Homo sapiens: one gene and its partner. Changing the gene in region 2 together with the main gene of any one other region gives a genetic interaction. Each region holds a gene or a part of one and is shown on either strand. Other genes may lie near its edges.

The links.
Region 1: changes in PML (region 2) and NFKB2 together harm fitness more than expected from each alone (negative genetic interaction), as found in Homo sapiens cells (one study listed by BioGRID).

The regions. Positions count from the first base shown.
Region 1 is NC_000010.11:102,388,046-102,400,154, forward strand, and holds the start of NFKB2 (nuclear factor NF-kappa-B p100 subunit), read left to right. Parts: upstream 1-7,659; 5' UTR 7,660-7,751; exon of another isoform or gene 7,752-7,842; 5' UTR 7,843-7,914; coding exon 7,915-7,935; intron 7,936-8,207; coding exon 8,208-8,289; intron 8,290-8,403; coding exon 8,404-8,444; intron 8,445-8,679; coding exon 8,680-8,778; intron 8,779-8,858; coding exon 8,859-9,010; intron 9,011-9,256; coding exon 9,257-9,363; intron 9,364-9,481; coding exon 9,482-9,640; intron 9,641-9,935; coding exon 9,936-10,040; intron 10,041-10,166; coding exon 10,167-10,252; intron 10,253-10,339; coding exon 10,340-10,478; intron 10,479-10,693; coding exon 10,694-10,819; intron 10,820-11,242; coding exon 11,243-11,452; intron 11,453-11,531; coding exon 11,532-11,673; intron 11,674-12,034; coding exon 12,035-12,109. UniProt on the Homo sapiens protein: NF-kappa-B is a pleiotropic transcription factor present in almost all cell types and is the endpoint of a series of signal transduction events that are initiated by a vast array of stimuli related to many biological processes such as inflammation, immunity, differentiation, cell growth, tumorigenesis and apoptosis.
Region 2 is NC_000015.10:74,017,119-74,028,538, forward strand, and holds part of PML (protein PML), read left to right. Parts: intron 1-5,709; coding exon 5,710-6,290; intron 6,291-7,738; coding exon 7,739-7,809; intron 7,810-11,420.

The DNA of each region.
Region 1 (12,109 bases), on a different chromosome or scaffold from region 2:
TAGAAACCCTCCAAAGCTAAACACATTTTCTGTAGCTTCTCATGTGAAATAAAAGGCTAAGTACCTGAGGAAACAGGTTATTACCTAGTGAGCTCAGAGTTTAGTAGGAGTTTATAAAAACTGGAAACAGATGCCCACAACCAAGAAAAATATGTGAATTTTCTACACACATAATGATATGAGAAAGAACAAAATATAGAATGAGCTACAATGGGCATTCCTCCCTGCCCCGCCACCAAATAGAAAAAAATACTAGGAACAACAAAAGCTGTGGTTATTGGAGCCATGGGTATTTACCTTTGTTGAGGGCTCACTGGTTGGAAGACAAGTGGCTGTGAATGAGCAGAGTCACTCAGCCCCAGGGCTCCCATTGAGAGGGGCCTGTAATCCCAGCTACTCAGGAGGGTGAGGCAGGAGAATCGCTTGAACCCGGGAGGCAGAGGTTGCTGTGAGCTAAGATTGTGCCACTGCACTCCAGCCTGGGCAACAGAGTGAGACTGTCTCAAAAAAAAAAAAAAAAAAAGGCTGGGCACGGCGGCTCACGCCTGTAATCCCAGCACTGTGGGAGGCCAAGGCGGGCAGATCACGAGGTCAGGAGTTCAAGACCAGCCTGACCAACATGGTGAAACCCTGTCTCTACTAAAAATACAAAAATTAGCCGGGCGTGGTGGCGGGTGCCTGTAATCCCAGCTACTCGGGAGGCTGAGGCAGGAGAATCACTTGAAACCGGAAAGCGGAGATTGCAGTGAGCCGAGATGGCGCCGCCGCACTCCAGCCTGGGCAACACAGTGAGACTCTGTCTCAAAAAAAAATAATAATAATAATTAAAGAGAAATAAAAATAAGTAAAAGGAAAAATTCTTGATACCCCCTACAAATCTGCTCCTCTCTCAGTGTGCCCCACATCACTAAAGGACAATTCCATTCTTTTTATGCCAAAACCCCCTCTTTTCTCACATCCTGCATCTAATCTTCAGCAAGTCTTGTTACTTCTATCTTTAAATCTATCTAGAATTGCGATTACTTCCCACCACCTTCATCATCCACTAGCACCCAAGCCTCAGCCGCTGTCTGTTGGACTCCTGGTCTCCCTCCTTCCTCCTAGGTCCTTGCATTCGATAGTCTTTACACAGCAGCCAAACGGATCCTTTTCTGTTTGTTTGAGACGGTCTCGCTCTGTTGCCCAGGCCGGAGTACAGTGGCACAATCTAGGCTCACTGCAATCTTCACCTCCTGGGCTCATGCAGTTCTCTGACCTCAGACTCCTGAGTAGCTGGGAATATAGGTGCATGCCACCACACCCAGCTAATCTTTGCATCTTTTGTAGAGAAGGGGTTTAACCATGTTACCCAGGCTGGTCTCGAACTCATGGGCTCAAGCAATCCTCCTGCCTCGGCCTTTCAAAGTGCTGGGATTACAGGCATGCAGCCCAAATGGATCCTTTTAAGACACATTATACCCCAGCCTGGACAACACAGCAAGACCTTGTCTCTAAAAAAAAAAAAAAAAAACTAAAAAATAAAAATTTAGGCTGGGCATGGTGGCTCACACCCATAATCCCAACACCTTGAGAGGTCAATGTGGGCAGGTCACTTGAGCGCAGGAGTTGGATACCAGCCTGAGCAACATGGTGAAACCCATCTCTACAAAAAAATGCAAAAATTAGCTGCACATGGTGGCATGTGCCTGTAGTCCTAGCTACTCAGGAGGCTAAGGTGGGAGGATTGCTTGAGCCCAAGAGTTTGAGGCCGCAGTGAGCTATGATCACGCCACTGCACACCACCCTGAGTAACAGAATGAGAGCCTCTCTCAAAAAAAAAAAAAAAAAAAAGGATACATTATACAATTTTCACTCCACTGCTCAGAACTCTCTAACGGCTTTCCATCTTGATCAGAACAAAACCCAAAGTTATTACTTTATTCCACCTACTAACTTTCTTGCTGTTCCTCAAATATGCCAAACACTTGTATCAGAGCTTGGCCCTACTGTTCCCTCCACCTGGAACACTCTTCCTCCAGATATTCCCCATGACTCACTCCCTCACTTTTTCAAGTCACTGTTTAATTGTTACCTTATCAGAGAGTCCTGCTTTGACTGATACCTAGAAAATCCTTGTCACTCTCAATCCTTTACCTACTTAATTTTTCTTTGTAGCACTTATTACCAACTGATATATATCTGTTTGAGTTTTGCCTGCAAGCAGCGGTGTTGTTTAATGGAGTGGGCTCTCACTATTTATCGGTAAATGAATGGAATAAATTAGTGGTGCATCTGCTCTGGGCTAGGCATTGTGCTAGAGCTGGGTGCGGAAACAGATGACGATTAGGATGAAAATTAGTGTAACATGCAATGAAGAACTTTCTTTCTTTCTTTCTTTCTTCTTTGTTTTGAGATGGAGTCTCACTTTGTTTTCCAGGCTGAAGTGCAGTGGCATGATCTCGGCTCACTGCAACCTCCACCTCCCAGATTCAAACGATTCTCCTGCCTCAGCCTCCCTAGTAGCTGGGACTACAGGCGCCCACCACCACACCCTGCTAATTTTTGTACTTTTAGTAGGGACAGGGTTTCACCATGTTGGCCAGGCTGGTCTCGAACTCCTGACCTCAAGTGATCCACCCGCCTTAGCCTCCCAAAGTGCTGGGATTACAGGTATGAGTCACTGTGCCCAGCCTAACAAAGAGGTTTCTTAAGCCCAGATAGATGAGGCTCTAGCAAGTGACAAGCTATTTTGAGTTAGTTTAAATCTCCAGGCTAACATGCATTAGGAATTGTTGAATCTGACAGAGGGGCACACGAGGGCTCATTATACTATTCTCTCCACTCTTCTTTTTTTGAGACAGCGTCTGTCTGTCACCTAGGCTGGATGGAATGCAGTGGCACGAACATGGCTCACAGCAGCCTCAACTTCCTGGGCTCAAGCAATCCTCCCACCTTAGCCTTCCGAGTAGCTGGGACTACAGGCACTCACCATCACATGTGGCTAACTTAAGTAGACATGAGGTCTCCCTATGTTGCCCAGGCTGTTCTCAAACTCCTGAGGTCAAGTGATCTGCCTGCCTCAGCCTCCCAAAGTGAAAATCTTTGTATGTTTGAAATGTTCTCTAATAAAGGTCTTGTTTTGTTCATCTTTAGATAAATTACGCCTTAGACTGTTGTAACTAAAATAGCTCAACCCTTAGGGGTGCTTTTAGAGATGTTGTGGAGACTCAAAGAATCCGTGCTGATTTTGGTGGCAATTTATGAGCACTTTGAAAGGATAGATGTGATCAGTGGTAACCAGCACGGGTTTACTAAGCTAGAGTATACCAAGATGAATTTACTCCATTATACATTTAATTTTTAATTTTTAATTTATTTATTTAGAGACCTAGTTATGAGACAGGCTAATTTTTGTATTTTTGTGGGGAAAAGCAAGAGAGATCAGATTGTTACTGTGTCTGTATAGAAAGAAGTAGACATAGGAGACTCCATTTTGTTCTGTACTAAGAAAAATTCTTCTGCCTTGAGATTCTGTTAATCTATGACCTTACCCCCAACCCCGTGCTCTCTGAAACATGTGCTGTGTCAAACTCAGGGTTAAATGGATTAAGGGTTGTGCAAGGTGTGCTTTGTTAAACAGATGCTTGAAGGCAGCATGCTCGTTAAGAGTCATCACCACTCCCTAATCTCAAGTACCCAGGGACACAAACACTGCGGAAGGCCGCAGGGACCTCTGTCTAGGAAAGCCAGGTATTGTCCAAGGTTTCTCCCCATGTGATAGTCTGAAATATGGCCTCGTGGGAAGGGAAAGACCTGACCGTCCCCCAGCCCGACACCCGTAAAGGGTCTGTGCTGAGGAGGATTAGTATAAGAGGAAGGAATGCCTCTTGCAGTTGAGACAAGAGGAAGGCATCTGTCTCCTGCCCGTCCCTGGGCAATGGAATGTCTCGGTATAAAACCCGATTGTACGTTCCATCTACTGAGATAGGGAAAAACCGCCTTAGGGCTGGAGGTGGGACATGCAGGCAGCAATACTGCTTTGTAAAGCATTGAGATGTTTATGTGTATACATATCTAAAAGCACAGCACTTAATCCTTTACCTTGTCTATGATGCAAAGACCTTTGTTTGTCTGCTGACCCTCTCCCCACTATTGTCTTGTGACCATGACACATCCCCCTCTCAGAGAAACACCCATGAATGATCAATAAATACTAAGGGAACTCAGAGGCTGGCGGGATCCTCCATATGCTGAATGCTGGTTCCTCGAGTCCTTTCTCTATACTTTGTCTCTGTGTCTTTTTCTTTTCCAAGTCTCTCATTCCACCTCACGAGAAACACCCACAGGTGTGGAGGGGCAACCCACCCCTTCAATTTTTTGAGACGGGGTTTCACCATGTTGCCAAGGCTGGTCTCGAACTCCTGGGCTCAAGTGATCCACCAGCCTTGGCTTCCTGAAGTGCTGAAATTACAGGTGTGAGTCACCATGCCCGGCCTTAGTCCATTTTAATTTAAGGTTAGGAATCTGACTTACCAGAGAAACGTAGTAGACAACATATCTGGATTTCAGCAAATTGTTTGGCAGAATCTTATGATATTTGTTTGAGAGGCCCACAGTAAGGTGGAAAGGGCTGCTTTGTTTTATATAAACTTAGGGGAGAAAGCTTCATCCTGGAGTCAACAGATTGGGTTTGAATCCTGGCTCTGTCCCTTTCTAGCTGTGTGTTTGGTTGTTACTCCACCTCTCTGAGCCTTAATTTCTTCATCAGTAAAAGTAATATTCACCTCCTAGGGTTGTTGGGAGGGAGAATAAGAACTTCTAAAGTACCCGAACCTAGCAACTAGGACACTATATTTGCAGGCAAGATGAAGAGGGGTGGGGAAGTAATAGGAAACAGCCCAAATCGAGAGCCATAATAGTCTCTCTTTACTTAGTGCCAGTGCAGGCCTGTGATTCTGTTCTTAAAAACGTCTGGGGCAAGCTGCAGGAAAGACCCGAGATAGTTTATGTTCTACCATAAGCCTAAGGGAGGAGGACTCCAGGCAGGGAGATTACTCATGGCACCTGCTAAGGAGAAACGCTACTGACCAGAGAGAGGTCCAGTCATGTACTCCGTGCTTGGTGAATTTCTGTCCTGACCTCGCTGCCTCTAGAAGTGTTCAGGTGGAAATTGGAAGGTCTATAAGAGGCAATTCGGCAGCATACAGTGGCTCACGTCTGTAATCCAAAATCCAAGCATTTTGGAAGGCCAAAGTAGGAGGATCACTTAAGCCCAGGAGTTTAAGACCAGCCTAGGCAACGCAGTGAGATCCATCTCCACTAAAAATTTTAAAATTTGCCAGGTATGGTGGTGTGCACCTGTAGCCCCAGCTACTCAGGAGAGTCAGAGAATCGGCGCACCCCGGAGTTCGAGGTTGCAGTGAGCCATGATCACGCCACTGTACTCCAGCCTGGGTGACAGAGCAAGACACTGTCTCAAAAACATAAATAAATAAATAAATAAATAAATAGGCCGTGCGCAGTGGCTCACGACTGTAATTCCAACATTTTAGAAGGCGGAGGCCAGCGGATCACCTGAGGTCAGGAGTTCGGGACCAGCCTGACCAACGTGGTGAAACCCCCAACTCTACTAAAAATACATAAATTAGGCGGGCGTGGTGGTGGCCGCCTGTAATCCCAGCTACTCGGTAGGCTGCAGCAGGAGAATGGTTTGAACCCGGGAGGCAGAGGTTGCAGTGAGCCAAAATCCCCTCACTGCATTCCAGCCTGAGACTAAAAAAAAGAGGCGATTTCCCACATCGGTGGAAATTTGAGCTGTTTAAACTCTGGATGCCTTTTTCAGTTCTAATATTCCAGATCTCCTTGGTGGATAAACACTTCATTTCCCTTCTCCTGAGCAGAGCTCCTGAGCCCTGGCCCGCTGGGAACCTGTCACTTCTAAAAAAGTTCGAGGTCCGGACTGTCTCTCCCGGAGCCTTGAGGCTGATGAGACGGAGCGAGAGAGGGGCCGGGGCCGAATGGAGTCTACTCGCGGGCCCAGGGAGGCCGCCAGAGGGCGCCCGGGACCGACCGCAAGAATAACTTCCTTCCTCTTCCGCTAACTTCCCGGCAGCGCGCCGCTCAGGGTGGGGGCCCCGAGGGCTGGGGCCGTCGGCTTCCCCCTGGGGATCCCCCGCTTCAGAGAAAGCCAAGCGTTAGGCGCAGCCAAAGCCGAGAGGCAGCGGAAGCTCCCGGCCCGGGGTGGCGCTGGGTCAGCGGGTACCTTCTCGGCGGTCCCCTGGCCGGCCGAACTCGCGCCTGGTGTCCTGTCACCCCGCTCCCCGCCCTGAGTGAGCCTGTCCCCTCTCAGGGGCGCGCCCGAGTCGCTCCGGGTTGGCTGCGCCAGTCCAGAGTTAAACTTTCAGCCAATGAAAAAGGGCGCGAGGCGTGACGCACGGAAACGTCATGGGAATTCCCCCCTCCGGGGGGCCGAGAAGGGGCTTTCCCGGCCCTGAGCCCTGCTGGCAGGCGAGGTGTCGCGACCGGTCCCAGGTGGGTCGGGCGCGGAGAGAAGCCGCAACCAGAGCCGCCGCCACGGTGAGTGGCTGGATTCAGACCCCTGGGTGGCCGGGACAAGAGAAAAGAGGGAGGAGGGCCTTTAGCGGACAGCGCCTGGGGCTGGAGAGCAGCAGCTGCACACAGCCGGAAAGGGCGCGCAGGCGACGACACTCGGATCCACGTCGACACCGTTGTACAAAGATACGCGGACCCGTACGTACACCTGTACCTGTGCTGGCGCACACACGGCAGCGTCCGTGCAGTCGCACTCGCACACACATGCACACGGAGACGTGCCCACCGGTGCACTGGTGCCTGCACCCACACCCTTCACGCACAAACTCAAGATACGCTCACCCGTGTCCGTACATCAAGACAGGCGCTGACACACACCCACACTGAGAAGCTCGGGATTCACCTATCTACACACATGCTCGCTTGCACACTCATGTTGACGCCATGGACACACAACATGCAACCAAGCACTACAGCCGAAACACACTTGTGGAGCTGTGATGGAGACACACTCTTGTATTAGGTGGGGGGGGGGGGGGGGGAGCGTGCAGAGATCTCCCTGTCGCCTGCGCGCCCAGAACCGGTGCGGTGTGGGACCAGCTGCTGTTGTGAGGTTTGGGAGAGAGAGAAAAGAGCCCACTCCGAGGAGGAGACACTTTTCCCGCAGCCCCAGAATCGCGTTCTCGGGGCAGAACCCCGGGGCCTCCCACAGGAAAGAGCCCCCGCCTACAGGCTGTTCGAAGGGGAGGCCGTCCGACAGCAGGAATGTCCCCCCAAAAGCCCCCGGGGTTTATCAGCCGTGGCCTCCCTCCTGGCAGAAAATCCCAAGGTTGCTCCAGACCGGGGGAGGGGAGCGGGAGGCGGACTTGGCCCCAGACTGCCAGCCTCCTCCCGGCCGTGAAAGACCCTCCTGTTCCCTGCCCTGGAGGGAGGAGGGGGCTTAACCCCCACCGGGGCTTCCCGGATTCTCCTAGACCTCTGCCCGCTGAAAAGCAGCGGGAGCCCGTAGACTGTCGAGGGCCTCCCGCCCCTCCCGTCGCGAGGGCGGGGCCAGTGGCGTCATTTCCAGGCCCGCCCCCTCCGGCCCCGCCTCCCCTTGGTATTTTCGGGACTTTCCTAAGCTGCTCTAACTTTCCTGCCCCTTCCCCGGCCAAGCCCAACTCCGGATCTCGCTCTCCACCGGATCTCACCCGCCACACCCGGACAGGCGGCTGGAGGAGGTCGGACCCTCCCCCAAATCTGGGCCCCCATCTCCCGCCCACCCCCATTTAGATCTGACCCCCTCCCCCACGCCACTCCTCCCAACTTTAGGCGGGCGTCTAAAATTCTGGGAAGCAGAACCTGGCCGGAGCCACTAGACAGAGCCGGGCCTAGCCCAGAGACATGGAGAGTTGCTACAACCCAGTGAGTCATGCCGCCTGCCCCTGACCCGGCCGGCTGCCCCTCGTGTCTGTCCACCTGTCTGCCCGAGCCCCCTCTGCTGCCTTACACCTGTATGCTCGCAGATGCTCTCAGCCTGCCAGTCTGTCCATCTGTCTGCAACTCTGCCTCCAAAAGGAGCTTTCTCTTGGGTCTGAGGAGGAGGGGGGAGTGACCACTGAAGACTTGGAGATGGGAGGTGGGGCTGTGGGGGGTGCTGAGAGTCGGATGCCACCCCCAGTCTGTCTCCAAACCAGGGTCTGGATGGTATTATTGAATATGATGATTTCAAATTGAACTCCTCCATTGTGGAACCCAAGGAGCCAGCCCCAGAAACAGGTCAGCAAGTTCACTAACCTCCCCTAGTCCTAAAGCGGGGGAGGGAGAGCATGTGCCCTCTCTCTGGGGGAGGGGCTGGGAGATCGTGGCTCAGCAAGGTCTCTCTGTCCCCAGCTGATGGCCCCTACCTGGTGATCGTGGAACAGCCTAAGCAGGTGAGTGAGCAAAAGGGAGGGTGTGGAATGGCTTCAGCTTTGGGGACAAATGGGGTAGTGGTAGCTGGCTGGCCATGGAGGAGCCATTGCCGAAGGAGGCCACAGGGGATTGGATGGTCACTGCTGCTGATCAGAGTGCTGTAGTTTGGTTCAGGGCTACTACCAGGCACTGCGGTCACTGCTGGCCTGGGTGGTCTTCCCTGATCACAATGCTACTATGCCCTTGGACCTTCAGAGAGGCTTCCGATTTCGATATGGCTGTGAAGGCCCCTCCCATGGAGGACTGCCCGGTGCCTCCAGTGAGAAGGGCCGAAAGACCTATCCCACTGTCAAGGTGAGCCAGGATGGTGCTGGAGGGTGGGCTAAGTGGACAGCATGCCCAAGGCCCTGACTGACAGTCCCTGCCTCTCCTAGATCTGTAACTACGAGGGACCAGCCAAGATCGAGGTGGACCTGGTAACACACAGTGACCCACCTCGTGCTCATGCCCACAGTCTGGTGGGCAAGCAATGCTCGGAGCTGGGGATCTGCGCCGTTTCTGTGGGGCCCAAGGACATGACTGCCCAGTAGGTGCCCTCTACGCCTGGCCCCCACTGGTATGCCCGTCTGCCAGTCCCAGGCCCCAGCCCACCTCCATGAGCTTAGCATCTGACCAAGGGGAAAGATGTAGGTTGGCCCCAAACCCAAGGGCCTAAGTAGAAACTCCAATGGCTTCCTTGAGGAAGTAAGGCTGAGCTGAGCCCTGGCAATGGGAAAGGTGCCTCAGGAAGAAAGAACTGCATGGCCAAAGGCCTCCGATTCTCTCTTCTCAGATTTAACAACCTGGGTGTCCTGCATGTGACTAAGAAGAACATGATGGGGACTATGATACAAAAACTTCAGAGGCAGCGGCTCCGCTCTAGGCCCCAGGGCCTTACGGGTATGGGTGCAGGGGGTGGGTCGGGTATGGGTGCAGGGGGTGGGTGGGTCATGGGAGGTGCTCATGGAAGGAGCAGGGAGGGAGAAGCCCAGGGGTCACACATGTACCTACTGCCCAGAGGCCGAGCAGCGGGAGCTGGAGCAAGAGGCCAAAGAACTGAAGAAGGTGATGGATCTGAGTATAGTGCGGCTGCGCTTCTCTGCCTTCCTTAGAGCCAGTGATGGCTCCTTCTCCCTGCCCCTGAAGCCAGTCATCTCCCAGCCCATCCATGACAGCAGTGAGTATCCTGATTGCCTGGGGTGCCAGGCCTGGTGGCAGAGGTGGCATGAGGGGTGACCTCAAGCTGTGCAGTCAAACAGACCCAGGTTTCAGAACCTGGCCCTGCCACATATGAGCTGAGTGATCCTGAGCAAGTCATTTCCCCCCCGAAGCTTCTGTCTTTAGTAAATGTGTATATTGGGTGTTTCCTGCAGCTCCAGGGGTTGCTGAGATAAGGAATACAAAGCCCCCAGCTTCTTAAATGTGGCCTTGGCTATTGCATCATCTCAACTAATCCATATCCCACTCCATAGAATCTCCGGGGGCATCAAACCTGAAGATTTCTCGAATGGACAAGACAGCAGGCTCTGTGCGGGGTGGAGATGAAGTTTATCTGCTTTGTGACAAGGTGCAGAAAGGTGAGACTGGAGCCCACTTTGGGCACCAAGGACATCGAGTATAAGACTGGGGCCAGGGAAGCTCTAGGGTAAATGGCCCCAGAGATTCCACCGGGAGCTGTGGCCAAGCTTCCGTTTTCCTTGTAGATGACATTGAGGTTCGGTTCTATGAGGATGATGAGAATGGATGGCAGGCCTTTGGGGACTTCTCTCCCACAGATGTGCATAAACAGGTACCCAGGGCTAGGGCCCGGGCCCGGGCTGGGGGCTAAATTAGGCTAAGGACTCACTGACACCCTGTGTCTCCCTGCACCCCCCAGTATGCCATTGTGTTCCGGACACCCCCCTATCACAAGATGAAGATTGAGCGGCCTGTAACAGTGTTTCTGCAACTGAAACGCAAGCGAGGAGGGGACGTGTCTGATTCCAAACAGTTCACCTATTACCCTCTGGTGGAAGGTGGAGCTGGGCTGAGGACCTCAGGGTGCTGGCGGGGGGCCAGGCTGGGCTAGAAGAAGGTCCCAAGAGCTAGATGTGGGGATGCATGAGCCAAGTCAGAAGTGCGAGGGTCCCAGGAGGTGCTTCCTAGGAGCCGGCCCTGAGGGCTCTTCTGGGAAGGGCCCCTGAGGCATGACACAATAACTGGGCTCAATCTCATTTTCCTCTGCCCCCAGACAAGGAAGAGGTGCAGCGGAAGCGGAGGAAGGCCTTGCCCACCTTCTCCCAGCCCTTCGGGGGTGGCTCCCACATGGGTGGAGGCTCTGGGGGTGCAGCCGGGGGCTACGGAGGAGCTGGAGGAGGTGAGGGGGTACTGATGGAGGGAGGGGTAAAGGTAAGAGAAGCTGTGGAGGAAAAAAATCTGGGGGAGGCCGGGCGTGGTGGCTCACGCCTGTAATCCAGCCCTTTGGGAGGCCAAGGCAGGCAGATTACCTGAGATCAGGAGTTCAAGACCAGCTTGGCCAACAGCGTGAAACCTCGTCTCTACTAAAAATACAAACATTAGCTGGGCATGGTGGCAGGCGCCTGTAATCCCAGCTACTCGGGAGGCTGAGGCAGGAGAATCGCTTGAACCCTGGGAGACAAGAGGTTGCAGTAAGCTGAGATCACACCACTGCACTCCAGGCTGGGCAATAAGAGCGAAACTCCGTCTCAAAAAAAAAAAAAAAAAATCTGGGAGAGTCATGGCTGGTGCCCGCTTCCCACAGCCCTGCCTGTATCCACAGGTGGCAGCCTCGGTTTCTTCCCCTCCTCCCTGGCCTACAGCCCCTACCAGTCCGGCGCGGGCCCCATGGGCTGCTACCCGGGAGGCGGGGGCGGGGCGCAGATGGCCGCCACGGTGCCCAGCAGGGACTCCGGGGAGGAAGCCGCGGAGCCAAGCGCCCCCTCCAGGACCCCCCAGTGCGAGCCGCAGGCCCCGGAGATGCTGCAGCGAGGTATGGACTCCGGGGCACGGGCGGTCGGGGCGCCGGGGCTGAGGACCTAGCCCTGACCCACGCCCTCTGTGGCCCGTAGCTCGAGAGTACAACGCGCGCCTGTTCGGCCTGGCGCAGCGCAGCGCCCGAGCCCTACTCGACTACGGCGTCACCGCGGACGCGCGCGCGCTGCTGGCGGGACAGCGCCACCTGCTGACGGCGCAGGACGAGAACGGAGACACGTAGGCAACAGAGGGCCTGGCGGACGAGGCGCGGGGTGGGGGCAGGAAAGGGACCGGCACGGAGGCGGGCTCTGCAGTTTTCGGACACGCCAGGCTTCAAGTCCGGCCTCGGTGTTCACAAGCTCTGTTCAAGCTGCTTGGTCTCTCCAAACTTCAGTTTGGTCGACCGTGCAAGGGGTACAGTCATAGCACTTACCTACCTCAAAAGGTGCTGCGAAACGTTAAGTGCAGGCACAGCGATGCCCTGGGCCACGTGCTGGGTTCCATGGGCCCCAGCGAGGGAGACTATGAGGGCGGTGGGGCCTTGAAAGCGAAGGATGCTCTGAGTGGCTGGGCCAGACTCTCGCTCCCCAACCCCCAGACCACTGCACCTAGCCATCATCCACGGGCAGACCAGTGTCATTGAGCAGATAGTCTATGTCATCCACCACGCCCA
Region 2 (11,420 bases):
TATGGTTTCTTTTATTTCTTCAGTAATTATAGTGTCTTTACTATGGTGAGAGTAAATAGTCCACTGTGTTTTCTCCTTCGAGATGTAATTTTACACATTTAACTTTGTGATTCATTGGAAGCATATATGGGTATGAAACAAGAAGCAAGGCTCTAACTTCATTCCTGCCCCCTACCCTCCTCCCTAGCCAATTTCTCTGATTCCAATTGTTGAAAACCCCTTTAATGTCCATCAGTTTGGGCTGCTGGCTGGGCGCAGTGGCTCACGCCTGTGATCCCAGCACTTTGGGAGGCAGGGGCTGGCGGATCACCTGAGGTCAGGAGATCGAGACCAGCCTGGCCGGCATGGTGAAACCCTGTCTCTACTGAAAATACAAAAGAATTAGCCAGGTGTGGTGGCGTACACCTGTAGTTCCGGCTGCTTGGGAGGCTGAGGCAGGAGAATCGCTTGAACCCAGGAGGTGGAGGTTGCAATGAGTTGAGATCACGCCACTGCACTCCAGCTTGGGTGACACAGTGAGACTCTCTCAAAAAGAAAAAAGAGAAAAAGATGGGTTGCTTTCTTTGTTATATAAAATATTACATTTCTATAGATGCCAGGGACTACATCAGGCCTATCTGGTCTGTTCTACTGATCCTTCTCTTGACTCTTGAACTAGTACCATATTCTCTTAATAATGGCATTTCTATAATGTGTTATCCCTTCCTTACACTGATTCCTCAAACATTTCTTAGCAGCTGGTCATAGTGGCTTAGGCCTGAAATCGCAGCACTTTTGGGGCCAAGGTGGAAGGATGACTTGAGCCCAGGAGTTTGAGACCAGCCTGGGCAAAATGTTGAGACTCTGTCTCTATAAAATTAAAAATTTTTTTCTTAGCTATTTTATCTGTTTGTTCCTTCATATGAAATTTAGAAACCTAGCCAGGCGTGGTGGCTCACGCCTGTAATCCCAGCACTTCTGGGAGGCTGAGGCGGGTGGATCACCTGAGATCAGGAGTTCGAGACCAGCCTGGCCAACATGGTGAAACCCCAGCTCTACTAAAAATACAAAAAAAATTAGCCAGGCATGGTGGCTCACACCTGTAGTCCCAGCTACTTGGGAGGCTGAGGCACAAGAATCACTTGAACCAGGGAGGCAGAGATTGCAGTGAGCCAAGATTGTGCCACTGCACTCCAGCCTGGGCAACAGAGTGAGACTCAGTCTCAAAAAAAAAAAAAAAGAAAAGAAAAAGAAAGAAAAGAAATTTAGAATACTTTGGTTAAGTTTCAAAAATAATTTAAATTGCCTTAAACCTGTTTATTAACTCAAGGAGAATTAATAATCTTATAATATTTAGTCTTATCTCTTAGTAGGTTTTTGTCATTTTCTAGGTATTTTGTACCTTCTTTTTTTTAATTTAAAAAAAGTTTTTTAGAGATGGAGTTCTTGCTGAGTTGCCCAGGCTGGCCTGGAACTCCTGGGTGTAGGCAATCCTCTCACCACAGCCTCCCTAGTAGCTGGGACTATAGGCACACAATCATGGCTTTGTAGAATTTTTTAAATAGCTGCTGTGAATGGGAAGATGGATTTTTTTCCCATATTTCTTCTCATTTGCTTTGCTAAGATAGAATTATGCTATTTTTCTTTCTTAATTATTATGTAATCTAGCCACTTTGGTGAGCAATTTCTTATTAAGTTAGTGGTGTTTTTGCTTATTGTTTTGAGTATTCCAGAAGCAAATAGATGTTATTTCGCCTTTCTGAAGATACGGTTAAGTCTGGGTTCTTGTCACGGAGCCCTTCTGGGCAGTTTCCCACTTCACCTCTGCCTCCTCCAAAGTGCCAAGCACGCAGCAGGTACTCAGTGAGTGTCCTCTGAATGAAGGTAAAGGAACCGCTTGGCTAAGGTCATTCCTGGCCCTGGGTGGCAGCCCTTTGATTCAGGATCTGCACCTCAGTCTTACCAGAGGGCTGGGGGCTTTTAGACCCAGGTGTCTGATTCAGGCTAGCCACCTCACAGACACTTGCCGCCCATTTCCATCTAGAGGGAAAGCAGGGGCCAGTCACCCTAGGGAGACCCCATTCAGGACAAAAGAAGCTTAGAAAAAGGACCCAGCGGAGGCTATGGCCATCCAGAACGTCTTGCTCTCTATCCAGCCAGGCTGCCTGAGGCGTGCCCTTCCAGGCTTGGAACCCTGTCTCCAAGGAAGGGGATCCAACATCAGACACAGCCCCTCTCCCCAAGTGTCCAAGATCCAAAGGGGGAAAATAACAACTGTTTCTTATTCTCTTCCCTTTATTCCTATACCCTATAGAATTGCCCACATTTATTAGTATTCTGTTTTTTAATTTCAAAAAAAGGAATACATTCATACATTCACAAGGCTCAAACATAATCTAAAAAGGTATGCAGTGAATGTCTTACTCTACCCTCATTCCACCCATCCCATAGCCACTTTTATTAATTTGCATGTCCTTTTAATATTTATTTATTCAAATACAATCAACTATGAAGATATTCTTATTTTTCCCCATTCTTACACAAAAGGTAGCATCTGATACACACATTTCTGCACCTTGATTTCTAACTTAAAATATATATCATAATAATACAAATAGTTAGCATTTATTGAACACTCATTGTATGCCAGTCATTTTTCAAACTTTTATCCATATATTAACTCATTTAATCCTTCCAGTACTCCTATTATTAACCTCATTTCTCCATGGAGAATTTTCCTTATCAGTATATAAAGAGCTTCCTCAATGGCTTACAGCTACATAGTATTCCGTTGTATGGGTGGATCATAATTTATGTAACTAATTGCCTTGTGAGGGACACGTGGGTGGCTTCTAATTCTTTGCTATTGTGGACTGTGCTGCAGTGAATATATTGTATGGATATCATCTTGTTATGTGTAGAGATAGAGCTGCAGAGCAGATCCAAAGAAAGAGGATTGCTGGGTTAAATGCATTTGTAATTCTGATGGGTATTGCCAAATTGCCTTCTGTAGAGTTATTAGTTCTTTTCATAATTGCTTAGTATTTCTAATTAAACGTAGCATTGATGAGCACTATGTATCAGTCTGGCTGGCTAGTAGGCTCTCTGTTGGTGGTTCCAGAACAAGTTGATCTCAGTGTAGTCCCAGATGAGACCCTTTCTTCTGGCCTCAGGTGGGCTGACTTATTCCTTTTTTTTTTTTTTTTTTTTGAGATGGAGTCTTGCTCTGTTGGCCAGGCTGGAGTACAGTGGTGCAATTTTGGCTTACTGTAACCTCCACCTCCTGGGTTCAAGCAGTTCTCCCACCTCAGCCTCCCAAGTAGCTGGGATTACAGGCGCACACCACCAAGACTTATTCTTATCACTGCCGGTGAGAGTAAATTACAGCAATATTTCTGGGGAACTAACAGTATTTTCCCTGGTAATATTTGAAGAAGCAGCCTTGTAATGGTTAAGAACATGGACTCTAAGCTGGACTGCCTGGGTTTTTATATTTTCTTTCGCTGCTGTAACAAACTACCACAAATTTAGGGGCTTAAAACAATGTAAATGTATTCTGTTATGGTTCTGGAGGTAAGAAGTCTGAAACAGGTCTCACTGAGGTATATAAAGGTGTCAGCAGGCTTTGCTCCTTTGGGAGGCTCTCAGGGAGAACGTTTTCTTGCCTTTCCCAGCTTCTAGAGGCTGCCCACATTCCTTGGTGCATGGCCCCTTTCTGTCTTCAAAGCCGGCAACATCACAACATTCCCACCTCTGCATTCATCACATCACATCTCCTCTCATTCTCCTGCCTCCCTGCCCTTTCCTTTGAAAGGATTCACGTGATTACGTTGAACCCACCCAGATAATCTAGAATAATCTCTTTATCTCAAAGTCCTTAATTGAATAACACCTGCAAAGACCCTTTTGCCATAGTAAGGTGACATATTCACAGGTCTCAGGAATTTGCACGTGGACATCTTTAGAGGCCACTATTCTGCTACTACAGTTTGCATCTAGACTCTACCACTTACTAATCGTGTGATCTTGAACAAATTATTTTGCCTCTTGCACCAGTTTTCTCATCCTTAAAATGGGGATAATAATGGTATCTATTCCACTGGATTGTCAGGAGGATTGAATGAGTAAATATTTGCCAATGCTTATAATAGTATCTGAGACACAATAAATGCTATGGAAGTATCTGCTAGCTAAAATATATTAACCAGGCCAGGCACGGTGGCTCACACCTGTAATCCCAGCACTTTGGGAGGCTGGGGCGGGTGGATCACCTGAGGTCGGGAGTTCAAGACCAGCCTGACCAACATGGAGAAACCTCGTCTCTACTAAAAATACAAAATTAGCCGGGGTGGTGGCGCATGCTTGTAATCCCAGCTACTCGGGAGGCTGAGGCAGGAGAATTGCTTGAACCCGGGAGGCAGAGGTTGCGGTAAGCTGAGATGGTGCCATTGCACTCCAGCCTGGGCAACAAGAGCGAAACTCCATCTCAAAAAAAAAATAACCAAATAAAAATATTAAAATACAAACACTTTGATCTAGCAGGCCTATATTTATAATCTATTTCATAGGAACAAAAGCTTCCATGATTAGGCTATATAACTTGGATATTACTAAAGTGTTGTCCATATTGGCACCAAAAGAAAAAAAAAAGGAAAGGAAAACGAAAGAAAGAAAATGCACAAACAGGAAATTACCTGAATGCCAGCAAAACGACAGTGATTGAATCAATTGTGGCCCATCTGGGATATACCAGAGCTATTAAAGAGAATACATCTGATCTGTGCCTATGCACCTAGAGGAATGCTCTGAGTGAAAGTTCGTTGAGAGGAGGAAGTTCAAAGTAATTATATGACTTGATTTATTTCTTTCTTTTTTTTGAGACGGAGTTTTGCTCTTGTTGCCCAGGCTGGAGTGCAATGGCACCATCTGGGCTCACCGCAGCCTCCGCCTCCCGGGTTCAAGCAATTCTCCTGCCTCAGCCTCCTGAGTAGCTGGGATTACAGGCATGCGGCAACACACCCGGCTAATTTTGTATTTTTAGTAGAGACGGGGTTTCTCCATGTTGGTCAGGCAGGTCTTGAACTCCCGACCTCAGGTGATCCTCCCGCCCCGGCCTCCCAAAGTGCTGGGATTACAGGCGTGAGCCACCGCGCCCGGCCGATTTCTTTCTTTCTTTTTTTTTGAACAAACATCAGCCCCCAAAATTATTGTAGATATCTAGGTCAATCATTTAACATGTTCTGTTTCTTCCTCTGGGAAATATGTATAACGACAATTCTCACTCAAGGGGCTCTTGCAAAGGTTAAGTGGCATGGCTGACATGTGTCAAGTCTGTACCATCCTGCAAGCAGCAGCCCAGTCTGGCATTTGTGTAAGGCGGTTTCAGTGGAGAGATGTGTGGAAGGGTGCACCCCACGATGCTCACCTGGTGCTTCCTCGGTGGGGAAGGGAAATTCAGAAGTGGTGGAAAGAGATGATTGTCGTTTCGTATATCTTTGTATTGTTTCCCGGATGTTGAAATTGTTACTGTAGTAACTTTTTATACTCATGTGTTATTGGTAGTTTGGATACTATCACCATAACCACAAACACTGAATTAGGAAAAGCAGAAACCTAGAAACATGCCATGATTCAAAGTCTGGTATTTTTGGAAGAGGAATTTAATAACGAACGTTTTAAGAGGAAAAAGTCAGGAGAGTCCTAACCCAGGCCAACCTTGTGTGTCCACAGCATCTACTGCCGAGGATGTTCCAAGCCGCTGTGCTGCTCGTGCGCGCTCCTTGACAGCAGCCACAGTGAGCTCAAGTGCGACATCAGCGCAGAGATCCAGCAGCGACAGGAGGAGCTGGACGCCATGACGCAGGCGCTGCAGGAGCAGGATAGTGCCTTTGGCGCGGTTCACGCGCAGATGCACGCGGCCGTCGGCCAGCTGGGCCGCGCGCGTGCCGAGACCGAGGAGCTGATCCGCGAGCGCGTGCGCCAGGTGGTAGCTCACGTGCGGGCTCAGGAGCGCGAGCTGCTGGAGGCTGTGGACGCGCGGTACCAGCGCGACTACGAGGAGATGGCCAGTCGGCTGGGCCGCCTGGATGCTGTGCTGCAGCGCATCCGCACGGGCAGCGCGCTGGTGCAGAGGATGAAGTGCTACGCCTCGGACCAGGAGGTGCTGGACATGCACGGTTTCCTGCGCCAGGCGCTCTGCCGCCTGCGCCAGGAGGAGCCCCAGAGCCTGCAAGCTGCCGTGCGCACCGATGGCTTCGACGAGTTCAAGGTGCGCCTGCAGGACCTCAGCTCTTGCATCACCCAGGGGAAAGGTAAGCACGCACGCCACCTTCCTGGGCGGCCTGTGCCTCTGCTGCACCCTAGGGAAGGCGAGTCAGAAGAGATCATCTCCATTTGACAGAAAAGAAAACTGGGTGTTTATTCAGTCTTTGGGGGTTGGTAAGGTCTTAGGTTCCAGGGCACAGGATAAGGGGGAGATGAGGCCCTGACAAAGGGCTGCAGCCACCCAGAGGGGACACATTTTACTAATTTACAAGACTCTGTGGATTGACCTAGCGATGACTCATGGGGAACACGTGAAAGTTGAAAAACTGCAAAGCTGAGAATCAGACCCAGTATCATTTTGGCGCCAGAGGGACCAAGCACTTCAGGAGGTTCTCTTAAGCCACCGGTGTCTCGGAACAGAGAAGTCAATTGGGACCTGGGGTTACGGTAGAAGGGGGCTAAGAAAACCTCCTGGGGATGGTTGGATGCTTACCCAAAACCATACAGTGGCTCAGTGGAGGAGATCCCTTGTCTGCAGGATGACCTGCTGTCTGCCAACCTTTGCGCGCCCTGCCTAGTGTTGGACGCTTGAGAGGTAAGGAGACACAGACTAGTTTCTGATCTCAAGGAGCCAGAGCCACTTCACGTAGCTGGAGAATGAGACAGTGCTCAGCTCTGCAATCCAAATCCGGGAGATGTAGCAGCTGTGTATTAGCTGGAACAGGGGGGCTTTCAAAATAAGGGGTAGGGGGAGTGTGCCAGAGAGTCTCCAGGAGTCTTTGACTAAATCTCCAAGCTGGAATGTGAGCTCTGAGCAGCTAGTATAGGATGCCCTTACTGGGAAAGGGGAGGGAGGCTATGGAATCTGAAGGCACCTGGGTAGGGTGCCAGTGACAAAGAGCTTATTTACTTCTCCTGGAGCTGGACATGGGTCATGAAGGATAATCTTAGAGGGCCTGGACCTGTGCCTTCTCCACCTAGGTAGTGAATGTCACCCATATTAAGGAAATGACCCCACAGAGTTTACACAGCTTGCCTTGGGTGTTATAACTGGGCAATAGCAGAGAGAAGGGTTATTTTATTCTGAAGCATAAGAGATTTAGATTTAATAAAAACCAGGCTGCAGATAAGGAAGATCATGGAGCTCTCACTATATGTAGAGAGTCAGTGAGCCGGTAGTGATGGCTTTATGATTGCGCACACTTAGCCTTGCTGTTGGCTCAGAGATGGAGAGAGGTACACTTGGGGTTTGGAGCCAAAAGCAAGCACTCTAATGCCACCTCCTTTTCCCTTCTGGCTGGGTTCCTGCCCACTGCATTCGAGAGAGCTCTCCTTCCAGCTGCCCCTCCAGGGAGTTGTCCAGTGCTTTGGGATGCCCTGGAAAATAGGTATCCTGGAAAAGCAACAGGGACCTCCTCTCTATCACTGTCCCAGGTCAGGATGTCCCTTACCAGCATGTCCTTGACCTGCCTGTGACCTTCTTTGTGTTCTACAGATGCAGCTGTATCCAAGAAAGCCAGCCCAGAGGCTGCCAGCACTCCCAGGGACCCTATTGACGTTGACCTGGTGAGATGGGTTTGAGGTCTGAAGGGGTGGTGGTGGGGCCCAGCAGGTCAGGCAGGTTGTGAGTCCTGCTGTCCCTGTGTGTGCAGGGAGAGCGTCTGAGTGAGGGACAGCAAGTGGCTGGACTGGAAATTTCAGTGAGAGGAAGTAAAGGAAGACATTAAAGAAGGGTTGGCTGGCTAGCTGGCTCTGACTCTAGGCTCCTAAATGCCAAAGTTGCTCTTGATGGGCCATGAGCCAGGTTCAGTGGGGGTTAGATGTGGGGTAGACAGTCGGCCACAGATCAGGGCTGCTGCAGAGGGAATTCCAGCATTAGATGGCATATTAGTGCCTTCCAGCCATGAGAAACTATGGTTGTCAGATGTATGGTTAGATATAGGGTCAGCAGTCCTGAGGGATGTGCAGATGTCCTCTCCCCTCCTACACCCTACCCCCAATGTGGGAGCCTTCTCTTGGAGTCAGAATAGGTGGGCCTTCCCCTGCTCTTTCCCCACAGATGGTTCTTGGAAAGGAACGGGGAATGGTGCCAGGAGTCAGATTTCGATCCCAGTTGCCCGGGTTCTGCTGGTGTGATTCCAGGGCCACCATACATGTAACAAAGCAGACTGTCTCAGGGTTCAAGGTATCCATGTCCCATCTAATGCTGGCATTCCTTCTGCAGCACCCCTGACCTGTGGCTGTCCAGCTTTCATGTACACATCTCCAGGGACAGGAAGCTTGCTCATTCTAGAGGCAGCTGCTCCCAACTCTGGACTGCTCTGACTTAGAAAGTGCTTTTCCGAGTGGAAATGCAGTGGTGTCCCTTTGACTTGCCCCCTTTGGCATTCACAAGTATGGCTCCTTTCCACCAGAATAAGCATCCTCGGTTTCTTCCTGGACTTGGCATCTGGTCTCTTCCCTAGCCTAGTCACTCAGGTTTGCATGCGCCTAGCCTATCAAGGATCTGGCCCAGGACTGGCCAGTCCTTCATGGACAGCAGGTCTTCTGGTGGTGGGTAGGGGCCTAGCTTTTGCCATGGCATGACCCATAGGAGAGAGAGAGTGCTGTAGGTTGAGGCAATCAGGAGAGGCTTCCTGGAAGAGACAGGACTTAAGAGTCTCAGAGTTTTAGAGCCAGGCAAGAGCATGGAGTCTAACCCCCTTTTTTTCACAGAGGACGAAGCTAAGACCCAGAAAGGATGTGACTTACCCAAGGCTACACACAGCAAATTAGGGGCAAGATTAAAAGCTGACTCTGTTTTTTGTTTGTTTGTTTGTTTGTTTTTTAGATGAAGGCTCGCTCTGTTGTTCAGGCTGGAGTGTAGTGGCGTGATCTCGGCTCACTGCACCCTCCGCTTCCGGGGTTCAAGCCATTCTCCTGCCTCAGCCTCCCGAGTAGCTGGGACTACAGGCGCGCACCACTACGCCTGGCTAATTTTTGTATTTTTTAGTAGAGACGGGGTTTCATCATATTGGCCAGGCTGGTCTTGAACTCCTGACCTCATGATCTGCCCGCCTCGGCCTCCCAAAGTGCTGGGATTACAGGCGTGAGCCACTGTGCCCAGCCTAAAAGCTGACTCTTAACTGCCTTGGGTACTGCATTCCTATATACACAACCTCAAGTAAAAAGAGGAATTTTTTAATATATGTGTGCATAATACAATCACATAGTCAGAAATAAAAACATAGAAAGTGATCAATAGTGTCTTACTCCCACTTTAGCCCCCAGTTCTTATGCCCATATAACTATCTTTTAAAAATTTCTTTTGAGACAGTCTTGCTCTGTCACCCAGGCTGGAGTGCAGTGACACAATCTCGGCTCACTGCAACTTCTGCCCCCTGGGTTCAAGCGATTCTCATGCCTCAGCCTCCTGAGTAGCTGGGATTATAGGCACGCACTACCACACCCAGCTAATTTTTTGCATTTTTAGGAGAGATGGGGTTTTGCTATGTTAGCCAGGATACTCTCAAACTCCTGGCCTCAAGTGATCTACCCACCTCAGCCTCCCAAAAGTGCTGGGATTACAGGCATAAGCCACCGTGCCCCACCTCTTTTTTAAATTCTTATATATCCTTCCAGAATGTATGTAATTACAAGCAAATATTATTATAGATATTTGCCTTTTGCATTCTGTGTTTCACAAAGGTAGGATAATACCAGATACACATGGTATCATACCAGAATTCTTATCCTATCAATAGGTAGAGAGCTTCCCGATACCTTTTTGCAGCTGCATAATGGACCATTAAATGGATATGGCAGGCTTTATTTAGCCAGTTCCTTGTTGCTGCATATTTAGGTTGTTTTGCTATTACAAACAATGCTACAATGCATGATGTTTGCAAATAAATAATATAAAATAATAAGGCCAGGTGTGGTGGCTCACACCTGCAAACCCAGGACCTTGGGACACTGACGTGGGCAGATTGCTTGAGCCCAGGAATTTGAGACCAGCCTCGGCAACATGGTGAGACCCTGTTTCTACAAAAAGTGTAAAAATCAGCCAGGTGTGGTGGCACATGCCTATAATCCCAGGTACTCAGCAGGCTAAGGTGGGAGGATCACCTGAGCCCAGGGAGTTTGAGGTTGCAGTGAGCTGTGATCACACCACTGCATTGTAGCGTGAGTGACAGAGTGAGACCCTGTCTCAAAAAGCAAATAAACAAATAAAATCAAAATAATAATAGGGAAATGCCCTTGGTCCACAGACTCAGCTGTCTTCCAGATGCTAGTCATTGGTGAATGAACAACAAGAGAGCCTGCACTGTCTTGTGTGAAGGTCTAGGTATTTTGGGTCTTTGTCTTGATAAAATCAGAATAGACGTGGCCTCTCACTATCAGCTAGGAAGCAGTTTGAACTTGGAGTATCAGAGGGTTGCTCTTTTTGCCAAGCCTCTGGCTTCAATCCTTGCCTGGGGATGGCAGTGCTGCTGAGGGAAGGAAGTGGGGAACACTGTGAGTGCAAGGACAGGTGAGGCAGGCACAGACGGCTGTCCCAAGGGAAAGTGCTCCATCAGCTGTGCCAGGAGAGAAGCAGCTCTTGGGTCCGTGTTTCTGCCTTAGAAGGCAGGAGTTGGGCATCTAGCTCCAGCACTCATCCCTCTTGAAACTGCTGGTTTGTTTACTTTCATTGCAACTATATGCCTGGAAGAGATGAAGAGAAAGCTCAACAGGCTTCACTAGGATTGTTTGGGTGGGGTGGCAGCAGCTCAGATATTTTCCCTCCTCTGTTTTTCATAGGCTTTTTGTAATCGTGTTATAATACTTTAATGGAAAAAAATAAATTTATTATTTTAAAGCTATAAAAATTATAAATCAGTCATTATGATGTGTTTTTCTCTACTGAGCCCTCTGGTGTGTTCCCTGTTTTATTAACGTGGATGGAGGGTGTGTCAGGGAGGTTGGGACAGAGGCAGAGAAGAGGCCAGCCCGGCCTTCGGGGAGTTCGTGGCCTGTCTGGAAAGAGGGTCTTTTACATACCAGCAGTTTGCAGAGCCAGACACAGAACGATAGAGCAGGACCTTTTAAACTCCTTTTTCAAAAAAAAAAAAAAAATGTTTAATTTTGGTAAAATACACATAATATAAAATACATCATCTTAACCATTTCAAAATGTTCAGTTCAGTGTACACTAA